Regions from separate parts of the Homo sapiens genome. Here region 2 is linked to region 1. The links come from fine-mapping of genetic effects on gene expression. Tissue or cell type: lung. Region 1 holds a variant in brackets; the other region holds the start of a gene. All regions are shown on one strand. Distances are between the middles of the regions.

Region 1 (2,679 bases):
GGGGAAAAAGAAACACAAATCACAGTAGGATCTGTGGCCTGTGCTTTTTCCAAGGAGAATTTTGAAGACTTCAGTATTTAAAGGGGAAAGGGTGGCAGGAGGGGCAGAGGGAAAGAAAAAAAAAGGGAGGGAGGGTATGTCAGGAAGTGAGTGGTTACATTCTTGTAAGGTGAGTGAGTCCTACATTCTTGCAAGACTTTGATTAGTGCTCACTGAATCCACGTGTTACATGTGAAAGGAGGGGTCGAGGAACAATTATTCATTTGTCTGGCTTTCAGCAAATCTGCATTTTACATAAGATAAAAGCAAGCATACAGGAGAAGGAGGAGGCAATCACGCATTTGTCTTGGAGTGGGCAGAGGGATGATTTCTAGTTCTGTCTTTGTCCATACCTGTTTAAGATAAGCTATTAATTTACATCATCATGCGGGCATGGTGGCTCAAGCCTGTAATCCCAGCACTTTGGGAGGCCGAGGTGGGCAGATCACTTGAGGTCAGGCGTTCGAGATCAGCCTGGCCAACATGGCGAAACCCTGTCTCTACTAAATATACAAAAATCAGCGGGGCGTGGTAGTGTGCCCCTGTAATCCAAGGTACTTGGGAGGCTGAGGCACGATAATCTCTTGAACCTGGGAGGTGGAGGTTGCAGTGAGCCGAGGCTGTGCCATTGCACTCTAGCCTGGGTGACAAAAATAAATAAATAAATAAATAAATAAAATCAGGGTGAAATTCAGCAGAACTCTGTTTTAGGGTGAAGATTTTGGGAACTGCAAGGAACTTCCTTGTGAGCAATTTGCGAGGGAGGCCACCTGGGGAGATGTGTGGCCCTCTCTCTTTGCAGCTATCTATTGAGGAACAGAATGGAAGGCAGTTTTTGTGTGACTCAGTTTCCAGACTTAACTTCTCCCTTTGGCATTGTGAGTTTGGGGTTCTGAGATTTAATTTTCCTTTCACAACACTATCCTGAATGCCATAACCCCCAAAAG[A/G]TCTAACTTCAAAAAATTATAATCCTGAAAGAGTAGAATCTCAAATGTTGAAATCCTGAAAGCTGAATTCTGGGGAAGGGATTGTGTATTTCTGTTGTATGCAGGATACATGTTGTGTCACATCAGATGGATGCAACTAAATAACAAAATTTCTTTGTTACTGTCTTCATTCGGAAACTTAAGTATGGTTTAAGGCGATGCCTGTGGGTGCCAATTGACAAGCAGGGGGAATTGTGGAGTTAAATTCAGGTATCAATTCGACTGGATTAAGGAATACCTGGGAACCCAGTGAAGCTTTATTTTAGGTGTCTGTGTGTGTGTATATGTGTGGGGGTTTCCACAGGAGATTGGCCTGTGAGTCTGAGTGGACCAGGTGGGGAGGATTTGCCCTCATGGTTGGCAGGCACCAGCCAATTGGCCATGGGCATGGAGAGATCAAATACAGAGGCGAATCCATCCCTCTTTGAAATCTGGGACAGACTTTCTTCTGCTGCCTTGGACATCAGAACTCCTGGCTCACTGGCCTTGGGAATCTAGGGCTTCCACCAGCAGTCTGTGGTCAGGAGGCCTTTGGCCTTGGACCACCAAGTTACACCAAAGGCTTCGCTCGTTCTCAGGCCTTTGGACTTGGCCTAAGCCACGCTACTGGCATCTCAGGGTCTCCAACTTGCAGATGGCCTGTCTTGGGACTTTTTAGCCTCCATAATTGTGGGAGCCAATTCCCCTGATAAATCCCCTCTCATATATCTATACTTGTGTGTTCTATTGGTTCCGTTCCTCTGGGGAACGCTGACTAATATAGATTCCTTTATTGAGGAAGCCAAATATCATTCCTTCTTACTGTATTCCTAACAACACAACAGAAAAGATCTGTGAAAATGTTCTCTCACAAAAGGGCTGTGAAAAATAAAAGTTTAAAAGCTAGTTATTATTGGTGCCGCAAAAGCAGAACATTGCTTAATTGCAATGGCTGAGCAATTATCAAACTTGCAAATGGACAGCGTATGCTTACAAAATCCGTGGGCCACAGCCACTCTCCAAGTACCAGTGGAGGAGTGTTTTGAAGATCATAGATGTGAAAATGCAGGTGAGAAATACAAGAAATCTATGCCAGACACAGTGGCTCATGCCTGTAGCCCCAAAGCTTTGTTTGGGAGGCTGAGTGGGAGGATCACTTGAGGCCAGGAGTTTGAGACCAGCCTGGGCAACATATGAGAACTCATTTCTACAGAAAAAAGTTAGGCAAATGTGGTGGCATGTTCTTGTAGTTCCAGCTACTCAGGAGGGTGAGGCAGGAGGATTGCTTGAGCTCAGGAGTTTGAGGCTGCAGTGAGCTATGATGGCACCACTACACTCCAGCCTGGGCAACAGAGGGAGAGCCTGTCTCTAAAAAAAGTATATATATAAAAAAGTGTGTATTTATATATATAAAAGTATATATGTATATGTGTGTGTGTATATATGTAAATGTCTCCTGCCAAATTATTCAATCTTGTAGAATTTCTGTCCTTTAAAAGACATAAATAATGTCTTTTTTTTTTTTTTTTGAGATGGAGTCTCACTCTGTTTGCCCAGGCTAGAATGCAGTGACGCGATTTCATCTCACTGCAACCTCCGCCTCCTGGGTTCAAGCGATTCTCCTGCCTCAGCCTCCTGAGTAGCTGAGATTATAGGTTCCAGCCACCAAGCCCAG
Region 2 (2,679 bases), 120 kb before region 1:
GTCCACAGGCAGCAGGACACCACGCTGCGCACCGGTTTTTCTTGCTAAATAGGGAGTGGGGAACTCCGAATATTCTTGCTGGAAAGGTTAAAAACGCTTTTCTTAAAGCAGCCTTGAGCTATTTATAAGTTGCACATCCCATCAACACCACACGAAGTACTGAAATACGATGCCGGCTGCCTCCTGGAAGCTACCGGACGGAGAAGGGGCGAAGGCGCCAGGCCGGACCGCGCCGGGGACCCCCGCCCGGGCCCCGACGTCACAGGCCGCCCCGCGGTCGCCCAGGCCTCCGGCATCACAGAGGCCCCCAGCCCCGGGACCAGGCGCCCTCCTCCTCCCCACCGCGCTCTCGGGTGGCTCCGACCTCAATCTTGCAGAGGCTGGGCTGGAAGATGAAGGTCCCCGCCAGGTCTGGATGTGGGAGCCCCGGGGTAGCGACCTCAGCCGTTCGCCCCCACACGCCACCCAGACAACCTCCCTCAACTTCGTCCAACTTGCCGTAGAGCCTCAGTGCCAGGGTTCGAGGGCCCTATCCCACCCCAAGCCAGCGTTTCCCCCGGAGCCCCGCACGAGGCTGGCGAGAGCTGGAAGGGGTGTGACCCCTGCCCCTCTCCTCCTACCTTCGGCGGCCACCAGGACCCTCAACTCTCCCTACTGTTCCCGGGCCCCTCCTCCTGAAACCGGCCCCCGGGACCCCAGTCTCACAGCGGGCCGAGCCGTGGTCCGCTAACCCCGCTGTCCCCGCGTACCCGGCGCCTGCAGGCCGCCCCCGGGGCTATCGGGCCGCTGAGCGACGGGCGCCGGGAGGCTCTTGCGCTCCTTCTGCGACTCCCTCCGGCCGCCCGCGCCGGCTCTGTGGCCCGAGGCCCCGGCTGGGCTCCTGCCGCCGCGGGGACCGGCCCCGGCCGCCGCCGCCGCCTCGTCGCGCCTCTTGCGCTGCAGCTGCTGCTGGCGCCGGCGCTCGGCCTCGCGCAGGATGTCGAACGGGTCCGACTCGTCGTCCAGCAGCTGATGGAAGCGGTTGGCCACCACGCAGCCGAAACTCTCCTGCATCGCGGCGCCAGCGGCAGCCACGGGACTCCCCAGAGCGCCCTTCATGCCGCCGCGACCACTGCGGGCCCGGGAGGGCAGCCCACGCGAGCGCGTCTCAGCGAAGCCGGCGGCCAGGACCCATGCCGCCCGCTCCGCCGCCACCGCCCTCCGGGCCCTACCCTGTCCGGCCCCTACCGGCGCCCGCCCCCGCGGCGCCGCCGCCGTCCGCCCCGCTGCGCCAGACAGCCAGTCAGCGCGCGCGGGTGCGCCCCCTTTCCGACACGGCGCGCCTGGAGACCCAATCACCGACCGGCTGCTGTCACGTCACGCGACCTCTGGGCCCCGCCCCGTTCGCTCAGCAGGGAGGGGCGGGGCCCAGGGGCGGAGCTACTGGCTGGTCCAGGCGGCGCCGACGAAGCGGTGGGGTCTCGGCTGTGTGTGCTTTCTCCCGGGACTGCGACCGTATTTGCTATGGGCCACTCTGCTTTGAAGCTTATGTATACATTTAGCCGTGCAACAGCTACATATTGCGCACTTACCGTGTGCCAGGCATTATGTTGTAGGAAATACTAGCTCCGTGTTGTCACAGATCTGAGTCTGTAGATGGAGAAAAAGTGCCCTGAAGGACAGGCGCAGAGCTCTCTACGGGCTGCAGCAAAGGGATCTGACCTAATTGGGAAATGACAGTTAAGCCGAGGGAGAGGGGTGACAAGGGGTTGGAGGAGGAACAGCAAGTGCAGCAGTCTTGAGGTGGGATGTGCACAGCCTATTCAAGCTCAAAGTGGTCTCTATTCTAAGAGCAGTGGGAAGCAAGTTTTGAGCATGAGCAGATTTGGGTTTGAAAAGGCCACCCTACCTGCACTGTGAACTAATAGTTTGGAGGGAAATACAAATGGATGCTGGGAAGCCAAACATGATTGTTGCAAAGCTCCAGGGAAGAGTTGATAGTGACTGGGATTAGGATGGTGGCGGTGGAGGCGAAGAGAGTAGATGGATTCAAAGACTTGGTGATGCGCTAGAGGTGGTGATGAGGGAGAAGAAGATACGGTGACTCTTATTTTCCTGGCTCCAGCATCTGAATGATAGTATTAGTTACCACTGGAAGACACTACTTTAACGGGAATCATTAATTCAGTCTGGGACACGTTGAGGTTTGGATATTTGTTTTCTTTTGAGATATTCAGTTGAGGCCTGGAGCTTAGAGAACGCCGGACTGGACTTCCTCCAGGAAATCTTTGCATAGGCAGCGGTGGAGACACGCTTGGCTGCCTATCCTACAGCCGTTCTTTCCCTCTTACATTTTTCCAGAGCCTGTATTTTGTTCAGGCATCATATTCCCCAGGGGAAGAGGGCCCCTTCCAGCCTCAAACTTGATTAATCATACATTATTCATTGCACCTGATTCCAATTCCTTGCCAGTAATTGGCTTAGGAATAGGCTGTGGGGCAAATCGGGCAGAACAGATCTGAGAAGTATTCTGGGAAAGTTTTTCTTGCACCTAACAAGGGATTGAGAAGGGATCTCCCCCCCTTCTGTTCCCTGGTCTTTGTTCCATGAGAAGACATGATGCCTCGGGTGGCTGTTCCTTAGCGTGGCCATGAGGATGGCAGAGCAGGATAGAGAAAGGCTAGATCCTTGATGAGGTTG

Evidence for each region. PIP is the estimated chance that this variant, and not a neighbour inherited with it, causes the effect.
Region 2: HABP4 starts here. The variant in region 1 is fine-mapped to the expression of HABP4 in lung (TOPMed, PIP 0.97). The same link has a PIP of 0.9 or more in thyroid and whole blood.

What each region holds. Positions count from the first base shown.
Region 1 is chr9:96,328,943-96,331,621 of GRCh38, reverse strand. All of the region lies in intron 9 of SLC35D2 (solute carrier family 35 member D2), which reads left to right. The region is part of intron 9 of SLC35D2-HSD17B3 (SLC35D2-HSD17B3 readthrough); the gene reads left to right. Among named protein-coding and RNA genes, the nearest start is that of HSD17B3, 28 kb to the right of the region's middle. The variant A/G (reference allele first, on the strand shown) is at 987.
Region 2 is chr9:96,448,699-96,451,377 of GRCh38, reverse strand. It overlaps HABP4 (hyaluronan binding protein 4), which reads right to left and starts at 1,209. Exons shown (of 8, transcript NM_014282.4): 1 at 750-1,209. The coding sequence starts at 1,098. RefSeq lists silencers at 692-741, 822-881, 892-1,431 and an enhancer at 1,712-1,791.